3 linked regions of the Homo sapiens genome follow. The protein of the gene in region 1 interacts with the protein of each later gene in a pairwise test. Each region holds a gene or a part of one and is shown in the gene's direction. Other genes may lie near its edges.

Region 1 (7,022 bases):
ATCTACTAAGATACCTTTAAGCAAGGGATATTTAGTCCAGTCACCCCAAAGTCTGATTTTTATGATTTTAAATTTTTGATTGTAAAAACAAGTATAATTTATGACAGTTAATAAATCTAAAAGGAAAAATGATAAGTTCAAGAACATCTTAGGTCATCAAGGTGTTTCTTTCTATGGAAGTAAAAGTAGAGTTTCACTTAATCTTTGTAATCACAGCAGTTAAACATGCTCCATTCTTCAGGGTTTCCTGAAGGTGCCCATCTGGTGGTACCAGCTTCAGGGTCCCTCAGGACACTGGGAGAGTCATCAGGACCAGACCAACTGTACTTCGTCTTGGGGCAGAGTTTGGAGAGCCACTTCCAGCCAAGGTGAGAACAGAATGGGATTTCAGCAGCCAGTGCATCATAAAGAGAAGTAAATTGACTGCCTGTGCTCTGAGAGTCAATTGATATATTTATTTTTAAAACGTAAGATCTTGAAAATCAAGACCTATTAATTTCATAAGTCATTCCAGACATCACATAATAATAACACTGTGCCATTTCTGTACGTGCTCTGTAACCTCTGTAAAGCACTATATATCTTGTTGTTTATTATTATATCAATATATTACACTTTCCAAAGACTTTTATGTATCATCTCTCAAGATCCTCAGGGCAACAGGGGCCCCATTTATCACCACGTACCAGAATATTGAGACTTCATCCAATTCTAATGATGTCATTTTAGCCCACAGGGGCAGAGACCAGGAGTCCACATCCTACATGTCTTCCAATCTTTCTGCCTCAAAACCCTCAGGAACTGCTTCTAGGGCATTTGATATCATCTCACTGACTTCTGAGAAGGAACATAGACAAGTACAAGCATGTTGTCTTACTCAGCACTCAGCCGCACACATCACGATGGGCAGAAGTCACTATCAGTGAGTTCTGTTGCCCTTGTACAAAGAGGAGTTCCACTTCATTATAAAGAAATGGAGCGAGTATATTTTTAATAGGCCCAACTCTTTAGCTATGTTTTTCTTTTTATCAGGCTTTACTTATTTAGTTTTTCTAGTGCCTTGAAGTATATTACTTATATTTCTTTTTAATCTTTTCAGCCTCAGTAATAAAATTAATATAAATGAGTCAAATTCTTATCTCCTTATTCTTTGAAGTTAGGATTATATAGAGAGAGTAATGTTGAATGAGCTATAAAATTGGCATAAAGTTACTTTTTAGTTGGGTTACAGTAGTTCATGTTAACTAATGCTAAAAATGCCTTGGTGATAGAATTCTAGTTACATATAGAATTGGATATAGATTGTAAAAGCATGTTTAATCAGTATGTTTCTACGTGAAAAGTAAATAAAAGGTTCTTTTTTTGGTAATACATCTGTACACAACACATGGGAAATGCACTCATGTGTCACTTAACAACATGAATATGTTTTGAGAAATGCATCGTCAGATGATTTCATCATTATGTGAACACGGTAGAGTGATTTACACAAACCTAGATGGTAGAGCCTCCTACACACCTAGGCTATGTGGTGTAGCCTCTTGCTCATAGGCTACAGACCTGTACAGCAGCTTACTGTATTGAATACTGAAGGCGAATCATAACACAGTGGCAGGTGTTTGTGTATCTAAACAGAAAAAGGTACAGTGAAAATACAGTATTATAATCTTATAGGATCACATCACATGTGTGGTCTTTGACCAAATCATTATGTAGCAGGTGATTATATATTTCATTCTTTAGAATTTCCTAAAATTATCTTTCCGGTAGTGTCAGCCTGTAATTTCCTTAAGACACAAGAGGAACTTCTCATGCACTTAGTTGACTTCTAATCTCTCTGTAATTTCTTGCTATGCATTAGTGGCATGCTCAGCAGTAAAGACAGTTAAGGCAAAAATAAGTGAAGACAGTCTAAATTTAGTTGCCAGCTTTTATATTGTTTTTGATGAGAAAGCATTGTGTTTTTCCCTTTTTTTAAACAAACTTGGAAAGGCCTTCTTATTGTCAAGATTTCCTTATAAATAAACATTTATTGGGCATTTACTATGTGGCACCCATTGTACCAGGAACTGGGGAGACAAGATAGATGGCCTGCCTCCTCTTGAAAATTCTGTTGTTTTGAGGAGGCAGATTAAACGCCTGCACACAGACAGACAGACACACACACACACACACACACACACACACACGAGGAACAGGTTGGGATGAGTGTTATGATGAGGAAACAGGAAGCTAACATACAGAATGCAGCCAGCATATCCTACCCAAAAAGTCCTCTTTGAGGAAGGAGAGAATGTGGAAAAGTACATTCAAGGTAGGGGCATAAGTGTCACAGACCTCTTGGGAGTCTGCCGACAACATGTCCCTGCCTGCTTACCTGCCAGACAGGGCCTCCTCATAAGACTTGGATGCAGAGGCTCTTGAGTGGAATTTTAATAACCTATTTACAATATCAAAACATGGCAATGTATTTCAGAAACACAAAATAAGTTTCAAGTTCCTTGTAAACATCCCGCTCTGTCCTTTGGAAGGTGCTTCTGGGAACGAGCCTGCGCAAGTTTCTCTCCTCTACTTGGGAGACATAGAGATCTCAGAAGATGCCACGCTGGCGGAGCTGAAGTCTCAGGTCAGACTTCTTCCTGCACCATAACTTAGTGGTAATGTGGCTTCTTCCAGTGAGATATTAATATATTCTTCTATCTCCTTTTCCCTCAATTACAGTCTGTTCTGATATGGCATTTGTCATATGCCATGTTCAGTGGTAAGTACCCGCAGGCAATACACGCCCATGGTGCAGACGGCTCCTCGTGGCCTCACTGGTCCCTCCTCTGACAGGCATGCTGTGCTTTTGTTTCAATCTATCCTCAGTGACTTGCGGCTTTTGTTCATTTTTATTTTTTTAGGGAAACATGGTTTCTTGGAACATTTGTAAAGCATTCACTTTATCCCTTTATTTACATTGTTTGTGTACCATTGTGACCCATATGTTAAATGTTGTTATGAAAAGCTGTGTTACCAGTTTTCCAGGAGGTTAGAACTCCAGCTTTTATGTTAGGATGCTAAACTAGATATTCTAGGTATTGTGTTGTTTCTTATGCATTAACGTTCACAGAGAAGGAGGGTTTTATCCAAATGGAAGGGCTGGATTAAGCACAATGCAGTGTTGAAGCAGCATCCGCCTACTGTTGGACTGAAATGAGCATTCCTTTCTTCTCTTAGAGGAGAAAATGTGGGGCCTATATATGACTAGTGGTTGTTGATGTTTGGCTTTTGTGCGCCCTCAGTATATGAAATACCCTTCCTCAAGAAAAAGCATATGTTGGCTGGGTGTGGTGGCTCATGCCTATAATCCCAGCACTTTAGGAGTCTGAGGCAGGCGGATCACTTGAGGTCAGGAGTTTGGGACCAACCTGGCCAACATGGTAAAACCCTGTCTCTGCTAAAAGTACAAAAAAAAAAAAAATTCACCTGGCACGGTGGCAGGCACCTGTAATCCCAGCTACTCGGAGGCTGAGGCAGGAGAATCACTTGAACCCAGGACAGGGAGGTTGCAATGAGCTGAGATTGCGCCACTGCACTTCAGGCTGGGTGACAGAGTGAGACTCCGTCTCAAAAAAAAAAAAAAAAAAAAAGGAGAAAAGAAAAAGCAGACAGCCTTATTCTCATGAGAACAAATGGGAAAATACTTTTTTTTTCTCATATTAAGTTGAAAGATATAAAATTGCTGTTTTTAGGTCAAAAAATGGATGAATATTGGTAATTTTAGAGGCTCCAACCTAAGTATATCAGTAGGGGCTTAAAGTGATCCCTTCAGAATTAGAACAAGCAGTTTGGGCCTACTGATTGCAGCCAAAGATTTTGAAATACTTCAGAATCAAAAGCTGATTCATCGGCAGAGCAGACACTGGTGGAGGATTGCGCGGGCACGGAAGAAGGCTGCTGTTGTGTCCCTTGTTGTACTGTTAGAGCGGGCTCTGCCCTGGTGAATTCTACTCCCATGGAAGTTAATTCCAAAGTTTCATTTTTTAAACATGATGATTAAAAAGAAGCTTTTGACTCAGATTTAGAGAGAGGGAACTCACTTCTTTCTCAAGGTGATTTCAGTGCAGAGGAATATGAAGACCGCTCAGGGTTAGTGTTATTTAAGAGAGAGAGAGATTCCTGTGACTTTTAAAATGATGTTATCATTACTTGAGATACTCTTTCCTTGAGATGCCACTGTGTAGTGCTTCATTTTTTTTTTCTAAAACAGTATGTTTTGAAGAGTGCTTTTTAAAACCGTTGGAGAAATGTCTGTTTCTTTTTCTAGGCCATGACCTTGCCTCCTTTCCTGGAGTTCGGTGTCCCGTCCCCAGCCCACCTCAGAGCCTGGACGGTGGAGAGGAAGCGCCCAGGCAGGCTTTTACGAACTGACCGGCAGCCACTCAGGTAGGTTCCTTGCTGGACGCAACACTGTCCCTCTCTGCTGCTGACGCACTGGCTGGTGTGAGGGATGGAGGAGGAATCAGTCTTCTGAGCTGAGTGACAACAAAGCCCATTCCTGGTCATGCCACGCTTGTGACTTGGGTGACACTTTTCATCATAAACTCCAGCAGGCCTTCAGTTTTCCATGTTAAGTATAAATGTAGTGTTGTATATTTTTTCTGTGCTCCAGTGACTGTGACATTATATAACTTAAAAGCATTTGGAGTGAGATGGAAAGTAGGAGTGGCTGTTTCTCACTCAGAAATGTTGGATTCAGCTGATCCTCCTCCTGAAACTTTGAACTTAAAGAGCAGGTTTGGGTCATTTCCTTTGCAAAAAGCAGCCTTGAGGCTTTTTGTTTCTTTCTTTCTCGTTTCTTTCTTTTCTTTCTTTCCTTTCTTTCCTTTTCTTTCTTTTCTTAATAGACAGGGTCTGGCTCTGTCGCCCAGGCTGGAGTGCAGTGGCGTGATCATGGCTCAACTACAGCCTCAACCTCCTGGGCTCAAGTGATCCTCCCACCTCAGCCTCCTGTGTAGCTGGGACCTCAGGCATGTGCCACGACACCAGGCTAATTTTTTGTTTTGACGAGGTCTCCCTATGTTGCCCAGTCTGGTCGCGAACTCCTAGCCTCAAGCAATCCTTCCACCTTGGCCTCCCAAAGTGCTGGGTTACTGGCGTGAGCCACTGTGCCTGGCCAAGGCTGCTTTTAATCGGTTCTGATTACCACCCCAAAGTGACTGGCATGAGAATCTTAACCCCGGCTGAACAGAGGGAAATTTCTTTGGCAGTTTGGCCATCTTCCCAGAGCCAGACCTACATGTTTAGTAAGAAATGACTCAAGTATCTAAATAATCACCGCAGCAAGGATTCTCATTTTTTCCCCTTTTCCAAAAGTTTGGGTGTTCTTATAAGTACTCAGAAAACAATTCTTTGCTTAAGAAAAAAGCTTAAAATTGGGGGAAAAAAAATTCAAGAAAATTAAATGTTATGTCACTCAATATTATCTTGTTTCACTTATTATCAGGGAATATAAACTAGGACGGAGAATTGAGATCTGCTTAGAGCCCCTTCAGAAAGGCGAAAACTTGGGGTAAGAAATTCTCCTGTGCATCTGAAGTGACACACACGTATCTTAACCTCGTTTGCCTTTTGAAGCTTTAACAACTTCATAGTGTAGCATTTTTTTCACTGCTTCTAAGTAGCCTAGCAACTTGAAACAGAGTGTGTGCTAGAAATATGTTTGTATGTCTGGGCATCTAAAACTTGGGACTTATTCTCCCATAAAAACAGTAAGGGAGAATTAATTTTTCAGTAATCACCAGGTGCATATTGACCCCATGATGGCCCTGAAGTGTCAGCAAGAGGCCCACCCGCAGCTGTTGTCAGTGTGTTCGGACAGTCTGCCATCCAACGGATTCATCATTGCTCCCGTCGCTCTGCCCCCTTATTCTACTTTCTTCATCCTAGTATCACCTGACATATCTGTACTTACTGATTTATTTGTTAGTATCTGTCTCCCACTACTAGAATATAAGTACTTGGTTTATTCATTGCTATATCCTTAATACCTAGAATAGTAATTGTGCCCATGTCATAGTCAATAATTATTTATTAAATAAAGATACACCCAAAATTGTCTACAATCAAACCATCTTGTTCTTTTTTCGCTGTAGGAAAATATTTTACAAGTCCTTTTGTAAATATCATGAACTATTAAGATTTGCTCTACCTATTATGATATGAGTATCCTTCTTGTGGTCTGCTTGTTATATGAGAAAGTTATCTTTCAACCATGTCTAACATGTATTTAATTTTAGTGTTTTTATAAAAACACATTCTTAATACAAGTTGTACAACCAGAAATAGTTTCCTGGAGGGGAATTCCAGGATCAAATGGTGTGGACATTTTAAACCTCTTAAAATAGTTAAATATTTCTTCAGGCAAGTTGTTCCAGAATATGAGTATTTATTTTACCTCACCCACAAACCAGCATTGACTATTTCATCGTCTAGGTATTTCCTAAATTGATAAATGAAAGATGATTATCTTGTTCTCATATTCTCCAGTGCTTTGATGACTAATAAGTTCAGGCATTTTTGCAAACTGTATTTTGTGAGTGCATGATTGAGTTATTTCGTGTATTTTGACTGCTTCTGTAATGAAGTCTAAAGGAAAAGCTCTCTTGGAATTTGTGTGAGCTCTTTATGATTTTGACCCTTTGTCACAATGGTTGTAAGCTGTGTCAGGTTTTGATAGGCACAGTGCCTTTTGCCCTTTTGAAGAGCAGCTGTGTGCCTCCTCAGGCCCCTTCCATGGGCTTTTCTGTCCTTGACCAACTTCCAGGGCACTCCTGCTCTCAAGGAGGCCTCTAGTCCCTCCTGTTTCTCTCCAGCAGCCTCTGTCCCCTCCTTGGCAACTTCAGCATCTGTGCCGATGCCCTTTCTGTCCTCTGGCCGCACTGTGCTGGGCTCCAGGCCTTGGCCTCACTCCCTGGCCAGCAGCCCCCTCCCCCATGGGGACATGGGGCTGTGCAGCCTCTGCTCTTGCACTCTGCACT
Region 2 (7,276 bases), on another chromosome or scaffold:
TCTTGTCACCCCAAAATAATCAAAAGGCTAAGGATCCAGTTAAAAAGGTTTATTCAACTGTAAAGTGTAAGGGCAGTCATATGGGAACATGTAGACACCAAAGAATGCTGATCAGTGCTTCCAGCGTAAGGAAAATTGAAGATGGTTTATATAAGACAAAATGGAGATGCCAAACAGAATTACAACATTTTCCAAACAATGGATAACATCCAGATTTAAGATCTGATTGGCTAGTATTGATTACACTCTAAGGTGGTTGCTTAATATTCTATCGTAAAAAAGTAACAATCACAAGGGTCTACAGCTCTAATATTATGTAGTCCAGGTTTGAAACGAAGAATAGGGAGTCTGATTAATGTATAACATCTCAACACAAAGGTCGGGAAGCAACAATAGTCATGCACCAGAGAAGAAAAACAGCTGTATTACATGACTCAGTTTTCAAGGCTTAACTTTGCCCCCTTGGCTTAATAAATTTGGAAGGTTCTGAAATTTCATTGTCTTTTTAAAGTTTGCATCTCAAAGTATAAGTCGCAGAACTGAACAGGAAATTCCAGCATGTTCATCATGTAAGTTCACAGAGCTATGTAGTAGGCAGAATAATGGCCTCCAGAAGATAACTGTTGAGATTCCGGAACCTCTGACTATGTTATATATGACAAGAGGCTTTGAAGATGTCATTAAATTAAGTATTTTGAGATGGGAAGATTATCCTGGATTGTGTGCTGGACTCAGTGTAATCACAAGGATCCTTATAAGTGAAAGAAGGAAGCAGAGTCAGGGAGAAGTTTGAAGATGTTCTGCTGCTGGCTTTGAAGATGGAGGAAGATGGAGGAAGGGGCCACAAACCAAGCAAGCCTCCTCTAGAAATTGGAAACGGTGAGGAAATGATTTCTTCCCTAGAGCATCCAGAAGGAATGCACCCTTGCCAACACTTGATTTTAGCTCAGTGAAACTCAATTTGGACTTCTGACTTACAAAATGCTACCTGTTTTTGGCTCCTTCCATTTTCTTTTCCTTTTTTTTTTTTTTTTTTTTTTTTTTTTGAGAAGGAGTCTCCTACTGTCGCCCAGGCTGGAGTGCAGTGGCATGATCTCAGCTCACTGCAAGCTCCGCCTCCCTGATCTCAGCTCACTGCAAGCTCCGCCTCCCGTGTTCACGCCGTTCTCCTGCCTCGGCCTCCTGATTATCTGGGACTACAGGCGCCTGCCACCACGCCCAGCGAATTTTTTATATTTTTAGTAAAGACGGGGTTTGACCATGTTAGCCAGGATGGTCTCAATCTCCTGACCTCGTGATCCGCCTGCCTTGGCCTCCCAAAGTGCTGGGATTACAGGCGTGAGCCACCGCACCTGGCCCAACTCCTTCCATTTTCAAAGCCAATAATGGAGCTTTTTTTTTTTTTTCGAGACAGAGTCTTACCCTGTTGCCAAGGCTGCAATGGCATGATCTCGGCTCACTGCAACCTCCGCCTCACAGGTTCAAACGATTCTCCTGCCTCAGCCTCCCGAGTAGCTGGGATTACAGGCTCCTGCCACCATGCCCAACTATTTTTGGTATTTTTAGTAGAGACAGGGTTTCACCATGTTGGCCAGGCTGGTCTCAAACGCCTGACCTCATGATAGCCCACCTCGGCCTCCCAAAGTGCTGGGATTACAGTCGTGAGTCACCACACCCGGCCGAGCATTTTCAAATCTCAGACTCTCACCTCTGCCTCTGTGGTCACATCTCCTTCTCTTACTCTCACTCTTCTGTGTCTCTCTTTCACTTACAAGGGCTGTTGTGATTACTTTGGGCCCACCTAGATAATGCAGGAACCTCCCTATTCCAAGATCCTTAACTTAATCACATCTACAAAATCCCACTTACCATGTAAAGTAACATATTCACAGGCTCCAGGGATTAGGACATGGGCATCTTCTGCCTAGCACACTGAGTTTGCGTGATGCCAGTCAATAAGGTTGAAATGGAAAGAAATGAGGTAGAAGCAGCAGCAATGGGCCTGATCACACAGGGCCCTATAAGCCAAGGTAAGGATGTTGGATTTTATTCTGTGATGTTATACACTAGCATATTACCAGCAGGAGAGTGACATTATGATTTATATTTTATAAAGATCATTTTGGGTGCTGTGTGGCAAATTAACTACAATGGAAGCAGATAGGTTATCCAACTAGGAGCCTTTCAAAGTACTCCAGGAAAGAGATGTTAGTAGCTTGGATTAGAGTAGTGGAGATAGAGGAGATAAGTGATTAGATCCTTGGTGATGTGTGTTGAAAGTACAGAGAGAAGGTTTAAGGATGATTTCAAGGCTTTTTGGCTGGAGTGACTGGGTGAATGGTGGTACAGCAGATACAGAATCCTGCAAAAGGAGGTTTTGGTTTGTTTGTTGTGGAGGGAGTCAAAATAAAATTGCAGTGCCTGGTAGCCATCTAAGTGGAGGTGGTCAATAGGCTGTAATGTATGTCACAGACCAGTCTGGAATTAAGGGAAGAGGTAGGTCAAGAGACAAATACTTGAGAGTCACTACTCTATAGATGGTAAAGCCTTCAGATGGAATGAAAGCTGACCATGTTATTTATTATCCAAACCAGCACACATTTTTTTATTTTGACAATTTCAGACACATAAAAGTTGCAAGAATAATACATAGAATTTGCATATGCCTTTCAGTCAGATTCTCCAAATGTTAACATTTTATTGTAATTGCTTTATCCTTTTCTATTTCTCTAATTACCTATAGACAGACACTTTTTCTCTGAACTATTTGAAAGTAAGTTGCGGACATGATACCCATAGCCTTAAATACTTCAGTGGGTTTTTCCTACAAAGACATTCCCTTGTATCAGTAGTTCTTAAAGTATGGTTCCCGGGCCAGCAGCAACTGTATCACCTGGAAAGTTAGAAACCTAACTTGTAGGGCCCCACCCCAGATCAACTGATTTTGACAATTTTTCTGTGGTTATGAAAGGAAATTAACATGACTTCAAAACTATTATCTAATTTATAGGCATTATTTAGATTTTACGAATTGTCCCAGTAATGTCTTTGATAGCAAAAGTACCAAATGGACACTTTTGAGATTAAAGGCAACCACATTCAATAATTTTGCCAAGACAAGGGTAGTAATGTAATCATAAAAGGCAGCTGAGCTCACATCTGTAATCCCAGCACTTTGGGAGGCTGAGGCGGGTGGAACACCTGAGGTCAGAAGTTTGAGAACAGCCTGGCCAGCATGGGGAAACCCTGTCTCTACTAAAAATACAAAAATTAGCCAGGTGTGGTGGTGCGCGCCTGTAGTCCTAGCTACTTGGGAGGCTGAGGCATGAGAATCACTCGAACTCGGGAGGCAGAGGTTGCAATGAGCCGAGATTGTGCCACTGCAGTCGAGCCTGGGCGACAGAGCAAGAATCTATCTAAAAAAAAAAAAGGCATTGAGGAGGTATACTTTTTCTTAATACGTACACTTAGAGGTCTGGTATGATAACTGTAATTGTCTATAGGATTTTATAAATGGATGTCCTTAGTGACCTTGACAAGAGGGAAATGGACTCAAAAATGAAAGATAAGAAAGCAGACATGGTATGTAGAAAACTTCTTTATAAAACGAGCAAAGATACGGAGGGGGATGTGGGATTAAGGAAGGTTTTTTTTTTTAAAGTGGGTCATTTTATTAATACATTATGTTGATTGCTGCTGGGAAAAATTCTTTGCAGAGCAGTCTAGGGAGGTTTACAAACTACTGATGCCTGGGGCTCATCTCCAAAGATTCTTATTTAATGGATCTGGGCTGCAGCCAGGTTCACGGGGATTTTTAAAAGCTCCCCAAGTGATCTTAATGTGTAGTCAAGATTGAGAACCACTGGTAGAGAGAGAAAAAAACTCTGTTGAAGAGAGGACTTAAAATCTGCTGCAGCAGCAAGACCTTAAATAATCTAAGTGCTAAGTTGCAGCCAGCACCACTTAAATTATCAAATCTTGTCAGTTACAGTATCCAACTTTCCCTACAAGCATCCATAGGCAGACGAAGGGTTTATACCAGTAACTGCATTCCCCAGGAGACAAGAAAGGAGGATAGAAAAACGACTTAGGAATCTCCTTGGAGCTCAAGACCAGGAACTTCCCCAAGCCGGAGGTCCCTGAGGCGCTCTAGCGCGCTGGCCGCACTCGCAGCCCAGGTCGCCAGTGCGCACGCGCAAGATTAGGTGGGGCGCCAGAGCCGGGGCACCTGCGCAGGCTTGGCTGCGCCCTCTCGCGCCGCACGCTCTGCGGGTTCCTCCCTTCTTCCGAGCCTCTCCTCTGGCCGCCGCGCGGGAGAGAGGCCGAGATGGCAGATGAGATTGCCAAGGCTCAGGTCGCTCGGCCTGGTGGCGACACGATCTTTGGGAAGATCATCCGCAAGGAAATACCAGCCAAAATCATTTTTGAGGATGACCGGGTAGGTACTGGGCACCACCTCTCTCGCCTGCTGAGGTGGGTATCGTCCGCGGATCCTCGGGTTTCTCGCGGAGGGAGAGGAGGGGTCGCGAGTGTAGCGGCGACGGGAGGGGACCTGGCTGCCCTGGTCCAGCGGGCCCCCAGCCAGCGGACAGGGCCCGGGCACTCCGAGGCGGCCTGCCGGCGCGTGCCGGCGCTCCGGTTACTCGTTATCTGCCCCGGGCGCGGGCCAGGCCGCCGGGCGCCCTGAGTGCCGCACCGCGGGGCCTGGGCGCGTGTCGGGGCGCACTGGGGCCCCCGCGTGGAAGCCCGCCGGTTCCCCGGCTGCCTCGGACCTTGCCTGTATCAGGAATCTCGAAATCTCGCCAGCGCTCTGCCTGACAGAGAGAAACCCGATCGCGCCCTGACTCAGGCCCAATCTCCGCGATCTCCCGCGCACAGCCGGCCTGCCAGGGCCCGGCGTTCCTGGGCGCTGCTCAGCAAGGCATTGTGCTCGAGGGCCCCAGGGGCGCTGGGAGGTGCGCGGGCCGTCTGGGCCTGCCGGCTTCCTCCGCGGGGTGCGGCTTGCCACCCTCACCCCTACCCCTATCCCTATCTCCACCCCAAGGCCTACCCTGGGCTAGCGAGGCGATCTCCTGAGATAAGAAGTGGGCCCGCGTCTGGGATTTGCTTTCCGTTGACCTCTCCCGCTGAACATTTTGGACTTACAAACAGCTGAATGATTCTTTTTGTATTCAACAGGAAGTAATTTTATGCCAAGAGACTAAGACTGTAGTTTTTGTTGACTTCTTGTAGGTGAAATCCCAGTTGATGTGACTTTGAGATATCTTGTGTAAATTATTTAGTGGCCAGTTGTATTTTTGGGATTGGATCTCAGATAAAGCTGGGCAGATTGGCTGATTTAGATAGAACAAATTTTGTAAACAGTTTTGTTAAATTTAGGAAATATAAAATCTAAGAAAAACATTTATTCTACTAATGTCGGTTAGATTCAAAACGTTATCAAAAATTTAATTAGGTTCCTCTAGGTAAATTAAAAAAAAAAATACTTTGTCTCTACTCAGGGGAAATTCTTTGGTTTTAGAAAAAATATTTCTTTTTAAAGTTCGCAGTTGCCTTTGAGAAATGGTTCTTGAAAAATTTACATTTGAACCACCGAAGTCCAACTGTAGAACGGCAGGAAGCATTCTAAATGAATCAGCATTTTGTAGGGAGTACCCAGTAGAATTACTCCTGAGACAAATAAGTGTGGATGGGTTTTATTAAAACAGCTTTCACTTCAGCAGTGAGCAAGAGATTCGAAAATATTCATGTCATATGTGTATTTACAGACACTGTTTTAAATAATTAGTCTAAATGCTAAAGAATATCATATATATACTCTTCAGCTTTACACAAAAGGATAGGTATATTTCTTAAATAGTTGAGTAAAGTGAGAATAGATATTAATCAAGTATCAGACAAATATGTAGTTACAAAACTGATTGCTATCATAAAGAAAAAAAAAAAACCAGGAAATTGCACAACTAGGACTCTGACCTGGGAGTAATGGGACGGGGAGGGCAATCAGAGGTTTTTTTCTGTTTTTTCTTTTTTCTCCCAGAAATCATGTATGTGCTGGGAATGGAATGGCGGAATGACTAGCAGTTTAAATTAGACGGAAGTTGGGGTTTGGAGGGGGAGAGGATCATTGAAAAAGCTCTGAGGGCAGAGAGCTCAGAAGGCCAGTTCCATGTGAAGACCTGCAGGAGATCTGGAGAGGCAGGCAAGGATTAGCATGGCCAATTTTTATGCATTCATTGGCTCCCAGTTTAAATGTCACTGCCTCAGAGTTGTTCTTAAACACTTAATCTAAATCAGGCTTTTCCTGTAATGATCATTCATATTTTTCCTTTGTAACATGTATGACCTTTGGTGATTATACTTTTAAAGTTGGTCTTCCCATAAGACTTCCATGGAGTCCGGGTGCAGTAGCTCACGCCTGTAATCCCAGCACTCTGGGAGGCCGAGGCAGGTGGATCACCTGAGGTCAGGAGTTCGAGACCAGCCTGGACAACATGGTGAAACCCCGTCTCTACAAAAACACAAAAATTAGCTGGGCATGATGGCACGTGCCTGTAATCCCAGCTACTTGGGAGGCCGAGGCAAGAGAATCACTTGAACCCAGGAGGCGGAGGTTGCAGTGAGCTGAGATCATGCCATTGCACTACAGCCTGGGTGACAGAGTGAGATTCCATCTCAAAAAAAAAAAGACTTCCATGGAAAGGACCACGGCACCATTCGTAATGTGTACACTTCTGTTTTCTTAGCATCTAGTGCCCTCCATGTAGTTACTGCTCAGTAAATACTTGTTGAAATAAGTTTTATCCTACCAATATACTAAAAGTTTGATTTATTTATTTATTTCTCTTTTCCCTAGTGCCTTGCTTTCCATGACATTTCCCCTCAAGCACCAACACATTTTCTGGTGATACCCAAGAAACATATATCCCAGATTTCTGTGGCAGAAGATGATGATGAAAGTGTAAGTACATTTCTAACATGATTTATTTTCTTGCTTTTTAAATTGTGAGATTAATTTTGTCCTTAAAGTGCTGTCACATTTTCATCTTCCTAAGGTCATTACTAAGGAAAAACCAGAAAAACCATTAGGACTTCAACTGCCCAGCTGTTTTCCAAAGTTACTGCATCATTTTGTATCCCACCAGCAATGAATGAGCGTTCCAGCTTCTCCGTATCCTTATCAACACTTGCTATTACCTTTTTTTTTTTTTTTTGAGACAGAGTCTTGCTCTGTCGCCCAGGCTGCAGTGCAGTGGCACTCGGCTCACTGCAAGCT
Region 3 (7,813 bases), on another chromosome or scaffold:
TAAATTCTCTAGTTTGCTGACGTTAGTATAAATTTAATTTGCCTTTTTTGTTTTTGAGATGGAGTCTTGCTGTATTGCCCAGGCGGGAGTGATCTTGGCTCACTGCAACCTCCACCTCCCAGGTTCAAGCGATTCTCAGCCTCCCAAGTAGCTTAGACTACAGGTACATGCCACTATGCCTGGCCAATTTTTGTATTTTTGGTAGGGACGGGTTTCACCATGTTGGCCAGGCTGGTCTCGAACTCCTGACCTCAGATGATTTGCCTGCCTCGGCCTCCAAAAGTGCTGGGATTACAGGCATGAGCCACTGTGTGCCTGGCCTAATTTGCTTTGTTTTGACATTGAAAGAATCCTGACTAAAAGGTCTGCTACTATGGTCACAGTAAATATTGTCGACAAAAAGTATCAAACTCTTTAAAACATTTAAAGAGGATTATTCTTTTTTTTTTTTTTTTTAGACAAACTCTCACTCTGTTGCCCAAACTGGAGTGCAATGGCGTGATCTTGGCTCACTGCAACCCCCACCTCCCGGGTTCAAGTGATTCTCCCACCTCAGCCTCCTGAGTAGGGGACTACAGGCACGCGCCACCATGCCTGGCTAAAATTTTGGTATTTTTAGTACAGACCGGGTTTCACTATGTTGGCTAGGCTGGTCTTGAACTCCTGACCTTGTGATCCGCCCACCTTGGCCTCCCAAAGTGCTGGGATTACAGGTGTGAGCCACCGTGCCCGGCCCTGAAGAGGTTTATTCTAAACAAAATATGAGTGACCAAGGCCTGAGGCATAGTCCCAAGAGGTACTGAGAATATGTGCCCAAGACTGTTGGGTTACAGCTTGGTTTTAATACAATTTAGGGAGACATAACACACCAATCAATACATTTGGGGTATACATTGGTTTGGTTGGGGAAGGTGGGACAACTTGAAGAGGGTTTGGGGGAGGGCTTATAGGTCATAGGTGGATTAAAAGATTTCCTGATTGGCAATTGGTTGAAAGAGTGAAGTTACTATTTAAAGACCTGGAATAAACAGAAAGGAATGCCTGGATTAAGATAAGGGGTGGTGGACACTAAGGTTCTTATTATGTAGATGAAGTCTCCTAGGTGGCCATCCTTAGAGACAATAGATGGCAAATGTTTCCTATTCTGACCTGTAAAAGGGGCTAGACTCTCAGCTAATCTCTTCAGAATTGGGAGGGCCTGGAAGGGGGAAACATCTAATTATGTTGATAGAGATTCTTTTTTTTTTTTTTTTTTTTTTTTTTTAGATGGAGTTTTTTGCTCTTCTTGCCCAGGCTGGAGTGCAATGGTGCGATCTTGGCTCACTGCAATCTCTGCCTCCTGGGTTCAGGTGATTCTCCCGCCTCACCCTCCAGAGTAGCTGGGATTACAGGAGCCCACCACTACGGCCGGCTAAATTTTTAGTAGAGACGGGGCTTCACCATGTTGGCCGGGCTGACCTCAGGTGATCCACATGCCTCGGCCTCCCAAAGTGCTGGGATTGCAGGTGTGAGCCACTGCACCCAGCCAACAGAGATTCTTAACAGATGCAATTACCTCTCTCCCCACAAAATAGCTTTGCAGGGGCATTTCAAAATACGGCAAAGAAATATATTTTGAGGTAAAATACTTTGATTTCCTTTATCTGTCATGTGATGTTATGCCAGAGTCAAGTTGGAAAGTAAGCCATATTATATAAGTTTACATAAAACCCATCTGATAACTTTTCTTTTTTTTGAGACGGAGTCTCGTTCTGTTGCCCAGGCTGGAGTGCAGTGGCACGATATTGGCTCACTGCAACCTCCACCTCCTGGGTTCATGTGATTCTCCTGCCTCAGCCTCCTGAGGAGCTGGGATTACAGGCACACACCACCACGCCCAGCTAATTTTTTGTGTATTTTTGGTAGACGGGGTTTCACTATGTTGGCCAGACTGGTCTCGAACTCCTGACCTCGTGATCCACCCACCTCAGCCTCCCAAAGTGCTGGGATTACAGGCGTGAGCCACCGCGCCCGGCCCATTTGATAACATTTTATGTTTTGTAGGGTGTGACTCCACAGGCCCCTTAGATAGGAATTCGGGGAGGAGGGGAAAAATGTCAGAGTTAAGTCCTCAGTATCATCTCCTTTAAGGTGTTTCCACAGTTCAAACAGTACCTTGTCAAAAGAAAGAAGAGACCAGGATAGACTACGAAAGAATTAGATTTACACAGTGAAGTTACTCACTGGAAACACTGTGTATGGGTGTGGTATTAGATTGTGAAGTCAGGCTGGGTGTGGTGGCTCACACCTGCAATCCCAGCATTTTGGGAGGCTGAGGCAGAAGGATCACCAGAGCCCAGAGTTTGAGGCCAGCCTGGGCAATACAGTGAGCCCTCATCTCTATATATTAAAAAAAAAACAACAACTGCAAAGTCAATGCATAAGACAAAAATCCATTTAGGCTCAGCCATAAAAAGGAATGAAGTAATGATTCATGTTACAACATGGATGAACCTTTAAAATATATTGATGAGTGAAGTAATATGTGTACAAAGGCCACATATTGTATAATTTCACTTATATGAAATGTCCAGAATAGGTAAATCTACACAGACAGAAAGTAGATTAGTGATTGCCAGGAGTTGGAGGGCATGGCAGGGTGCAGAATGATAAAAGCCTGTACAAGCCTTCTTTTTGGGATGAACATGTTCTGGAATTAGATAGTAGTAATGGTTGCACAACTTTTGGAATAAACTGAAAACCAATGAATTGTACACTCATCTGAAGGGGTAAATATTATGGCATGTGAATTATATCTCAGAAAAATCTATTTTGGCTAAATTACCATTGAAAGTCCTTTTCAAAGAGTCTAATTCAGCTGTTTTTACTTTCAGCATAAAAATAAATGGCCTTTGAAACTTTTTAGAGTACTAGATAAATAGTATGTTTGCATTTGGGAGTCCTGTTATAAAAAATGTATCTTATAACTTGAGTCACACTAAATTATGTGAGATTCTCACATTATAAAGGGTAAGGAAGTGAATCAGAAGCATTGAAAAGGGATTGTGTGTAACATGTTATCTCTTGCAAAAGGAAATTAAATTTTGGGACCCCAAACTGATTTAGCCAAAGGGAAAAGTCACGCTGGGACTGGTCACGCAAATCTGCCTCCCCCTTTTGGTTCCTAAATAAGATTGCTGCAAGATGAAAAGCTACATCTCTCCCCCGTATTTTGCCCACAAGGAAATTCTTAGTGTGCTGTTAAAACTTCATGGCAATGCAAATTGATAGCTTATCTTTACAGGTGGCCACCCCAGCCCGCCAGACACAAATGCCTATCTGATTGTTCCCCTACCCCATTTTGTCTGTTATCTTATGAAAAATGCAGACTCCCACATTCTTCCTCTGCCCATTTTATGTCATCTTATGTAAAAAATGCAGATTCACTGAGCCAGAGAAAGGCAAGAATTACTATTTTCTCCTACCGCCCCCTTACATGAAAACGGTGTGCTTCTCAATATCCCGCCCTTTCCCCTTTAAATTTGGAGCACTCAAAATCATCTTCGAAGAAAGGCATAGACCTGTTTCCTGGGCTCGTACTTAACTTCGGCAAATAAATCTCCTAAAGTGATGGACTCTCTTATAAATTAATCTGTAGCCAAGGCATGTCATCAATATGTCCTACTGTGCCTTCCTACCTCCCATTTATCAACTTACATGAGAAGCACACATCTTACTTGTCATAAATTATTACCTTAGTGAAAACCTGAGGGTGTCAAGAAGTCGAAAAATTTGAGACATTGACGTTGGGGAAGACACCTTTAATTAGAGCACCATAAAATCATGATAGAATGATACATTTTTCCTTGCCTTATATTTTTGGCATGCAAAACAGAAGGAGCTCAAACAATTGAGTGACACATTAGTAAAATTCCTTTCATTCATTTCTACTTACAAGGCACACACCATTGACCTCACCCCGTCCCCCCCTTTAAAACAATATTTGACCCGCGCCCCCCCCCCTTTAAAGCAATCTTTGAAAAGTTAGGAATGAAAGCCGGTTCAGGACAGTACACAGTACACAAATACTGGCTTCCCCTACCTCCACCACAAGCAAGTAAACATCCTAGCACAGTGTAAAAAGGAAGAGGCTGAGGACGAACCACGCGGACATTTGCAGGCACACCCCTTCCCTGCGACCAACAAAAATGCAGTAGCGCAATTACACTTGAAGGAATTGCAGCACTCACAAAAGCACACATTCTGTTCAATGGTTGAGTCCACATAAAGTGACAGTCCGTTTCTAAAAGCATGGCTGTATTTAAAGGACACATGGTCTGTTCAGGTCCGCTTCAGCGAAACCCCAAGCACTTCCGAGAGATCCACTCCCTCTCTCCGAGCAGGTGCCACTAGCTGCTCCGCCGGCGAGCGTAGGAAGCAGCGCGACCAACCAAATCGGTTGCCCACAACAGCCAGGGACGTCAAAAAGGCCAAACTGCGTGGGAAGCGAGCGTGCGCCTCCATCACCACGACAGCACCCGTCTCGAGGCTCCACCTGCCGCTAGTAGGTGGCTCTCAGCTCTGCTCTGCTAAGGGCGAGCTTGAGAACCCGGCCTACAGTTGTGCACCTCCCCCCGCCCCCGCCCCCGCCCCCGCCCCCGCCCACCGCACTTGTAGCCCCGCCCCGCCCAGGGAGCTTCCGTCACAACACTTCCGGCTCCAGCCTCCCAACCGGCCTCCGTCGTTTTTCACTTCCCTCTCCTCAGCTCTCTTCCCTTGCCCCTACCGTCTCCTTTAACACAGTCACGTGAGGGACGCGCGCGGGGGCAGCTGGGAGTAGTACTGCCGGTTGGTCAGGGTTCGGCCTCAACATGGCGGTTCCGGCCGGGCAGTGACCAAGGTTTTGCCGTCCGAAGGACTAAGTGGTGACTGTCGGCGTCTCCACCTATCGGGGTGGAATGCGAGCACGCGGGGACGAGCGCTGAGAAGCGGCGGTGACGGGAAGGGGGGGGTCAGTGGATTGTGCCCCAGAAACCGAAGCGGCGGCGTCTGTTCCTTCTTGTTTCTAGGCTCCAGTGCGTTCGGGGCCCCGCCCGGCCGGGCCAGGCCGGCGGGCGGCGGCGGTAGCTGCTGCAGCCGCAGGATAACCTCGCAGGGTGGGCCGGAGGGCGGGCGCCGCCGCTGCCTGTGCTGCGGCGATGGCCCAGTGTGTACAATCAGTGCAGGAGCTAATCCCGGACTCCTTCGTCCCCTGTGTCGCTGCGCTGTGCAGCGACGAAGCCGAGCGGCTCACTCGTCTCAATCACCTCAGCTTCGCGGAGCTGCTTAAGCCCTTCTCCCGCCTCACTTCCGAGGGTATGTGGTATCCTCCCTTTTCCAGTGGGCTCCCGCAAAGCCGTGGTCGGGAGAAGGAAGTTGCGGGCGGGCAGGGAAGAGAAGGGCAGTGTTTACGTCCTGGAGCCGGTACCGTGGCGTCTGGGGCTGTGGCCCCGCGGTGCTCCGGGGGCGGCTGGAGGAGGGACCGTGAGGTTGTCAAGACAGCGCAGTCCTAAGCTCCAGTTTCTCTGGGCACTTCCTTTCTTCCTCGGACAACCTAGGTCGTTAAGTAATTGGTGCAAAGATAAACGTGAGTCTTCGAGAACGGCATTGAGACTGTTCTCCACGGCCATAGCGAAGGAATTAGGCACTTGCAAAGCAGCTAAGGTAGGAAAATGCTGCCTCTTAGACCGACAGGGTCTGAGTAAGGAAGACCTGTCATCCTCCCTTGGATGTTAAACTGGACTTTGAAAGTAGTTGTGGATGTTATTACATTCTTGTAGCGTTGAGGGTCATCTCTGTCTGAACTACCGTGTAGCTGTTTTACTAATATATTCTTAGCTATACGGTATTTTGCTTAACCTCTCAAGAAAATTAAAAGTATTATAAGAAGAATAAAACTTGAAGCAGCTTTTTGCCCTAAGGAAGAGGAAGCAAGCCCAAGTTGTGGTTAATTTAACCTGGATATTTGGAGTTATCTATAGTTATAGGGATGGAAATGTCTTCTCTTGTTAATGAATGTCTTGTTAAGAAGCTACCCGTTTTCTCCAGTTTTGGATTTTTTTATTAGGAGAAAATAATGTGGTAAAGCTTCAAGCATGTTTTAGCCAATATCTTGCAAACAACAAAGTCCAAGTAAAGTTTTTTTTGTTAAGGTCGGTAAGAACTGAAGGGTTTCATAATAAGCCTGTGTCAGGCAAACGACTGTGATGTTTGTTAGCTTAATATGACTTATCCACAAAAAAAATCAGTGCTGTACCATTTTTGCGCTACCATGTTTTTTGGGAGAATAGTTCCATTATAAATTAGCTTTTGTTTTTAGCGGAGAGAGGGAGCTGTCCAAAAAAACAAAGTTTGGAAACTTTTGGATTTTCTTTAGCCTGTATCGTAGCCATCAGTCTCAGTTCCTTCAGTGTTGGACTTAAGAGCAACAAAATGCCCTACGTTTTTTATTTTTTTGTTATTTATTTATTTATTTATTTTGAGATGGAGTTTCGCTCTTGTTGCCCAGACTGGAGTGCAGTGGCGCGATCTCAGCCCACCGCCACCTCCGCCTCCCAGGTTCAAGCGATTCTCCTGCCTCAGCCTTCTGAGTAACTGAGATTACAGGCATGCGCCACCATACTCGGATAATTTTTGTATTTTTAGTAGAGACAGGGTTTCTCCATGTTGGTCAGGTTGGTCTCGAACTCCCGACCTCAGGTGATCTGCCCGCCTCGGCCTCGCAAAGTGCGGGGATTATGGGCGTGAGCCACCGCGCCCGGCCTTGAATTCCTAAAAAAACACAAACACTTGAGCTAGTTTTACTTTTATATGTGTACTCTTTCCTTCTTTCTTAATAAATAATAATAATGCTAATACCTGATACTTGCTTTGTGTAACTTTTCTTTTTTAGTCCTCATTGAATCCTGTTATTGCAATTTTAAATTTGAGGACCTTGAAGCATAGAAGTGTTAATTTGTTCACAGTTTTGCGTCTGGGAAAGATTTGAAACAGGCAGTGTGACTCAAGACATTGTGTTCTTAATCATCTTATCTCCTGACAGTATTTAGAATTATGTATTTACACCATAGAGCAGTGCTGTCTAATTGAAATATAATGTGAGTCACAGGTATAATTAAAAAATTTTCGGCCGGGCGCGGTGGCTCACGCTTGTAATCCCAGCTCTTTGGGAGGCCGAGGCGGGTGGATCACGAGGTCAGGAGTTCGAGACCATCCTGGCCAACATGGTGAAACCCCGTTTCTACTAAAAATACAAAAATTAGCTGGGCGTGGTGGTGGGCGCCTGTAGTCCCAGCTACTCGAGAAGCTGAGGCAGGAGAATCACTTGAACCCGGGAGGCACAGTGAGACTCCATCTCAAAACCAACCAAACAAACAACAACAACAAAAAATTTTAGTAGCCACATTAAAAAAGTAAAAAGAAACAAGTGAAATTAGTTTTTTTGTTTTTTGTTTTTTGGAGATGGAGTCTTGCCCTGTTGCCCAGGCTGGGAGTGCAGTGGCGCGATCTTGGCTCACTACAACCTCTGCCTCCCAGGTTCAAGCGATTTTCCAGCCTCAGCCTCCCGAGTAGCTGGGATTACAGGCGCTCACGGCTTATTTTTGTATTTTTAGTAGAGACAGGGTTTCACCATGTTGGCCAGGCTGGTCTCGAACTCCTGACCTCGTGGTCCGCCCGCCTCCGCCTCCCAAAGTGCTGGGATTACAGGCGTGAGCCACCGTGCCCGGCCGAAATTAGTTTTAATACTGTATTTTATTTAACTCAGTATTTCCAAAATGTTACTATTTCAATGTGT

What was found. The genes of interacting proteins can lie anywhere in the genome.
Region 2: the proteins of USP40 (region 1) and HINT1 interact in a two-hybrid assay, tested with the Homo sapiens proteins (one study listed by BioGRID).
Region 3: the proteins of USP40 (region 1) and TRAPPC8 interact in a two-hybrid assay, tested with the Homo sapiens proteins (one study listed by BioGRID).

The regions. Positions count from the first base shown.
Region 1 is NC_000002.12:233,486,771-233,493,792, reverse strand, and holds part of USP40 (ubiquitin carboxyl-terminal hydrolase 40), read left to right. Parts: intron 1-241; coding exon 242-368; intron 369-2,531; coding exon 2,532-2,626; intron 2,627-2,721; coding exon of another isoform or gene 2,722-2,761; intron 2,762-3,894; exon of another isoform or gene 3,895-4,131; intron 4,132-4,309; coding exon 4,310-4,428; intron 4,429-5,488; coding exon 5,489-5,554; intron 5,555-5,776; coding exon of another isoform or gene 5,777-6,029; exon of another isoform or gene 6,030-6,112; intron 6,113-7,022. UniProt on the Homo sapiens protein: May be catalytically inactive.
Region 2 is NC_000005.10:131,162,257-131,169,532, reverse strand, and holds the start of HINT1 (adenosine 5'-monophosphoramidase HINT1), read left to right. Parts: upstream 1-4,276; 5' UTR 4,277-4,327; coding exon 4,328-4,438; exon of another isoform or gene 4,439-4,473; intron 4,474-6,856; coding exon 6,857-6,961; coding exon of another isoform or gene 6,962-6,982; exon of another isoform or gene 6,983-7,055; coding exon of another isoform or gene 7,056-7,151; exon of another isoform or gene 7,152-7,276. UniProt on the Homo sapiens protein: Exhibits adenosine 5'-monophosphoramidase activity, hydrolyzing purine nucleotide phosphoramidates with a single phosphate group such as adenosine 5'monophosphoramidate (AMP-NH2) to yield AMP and NH2.
Region 3 is NC_000018.10:31,940,129-31,947,941, reverse strand, and holds the start of TRAPPC8 (trafficking protein particle complex subunit 8), read left to right. Parts: upstream 1-4,813; 5' UTR 4,814-5,177; coding exon 5,178-5,334; intron 5,335-7,813. UniProt on the Homo sapiens protein: Plays a role in endoplasmic reticulum to Golgi apparatus trafficking at a very early stage. Maintains together with TBC1D14 the cycling pool of ATG9 required for initiation of autophagy. Involved in collagen secretion.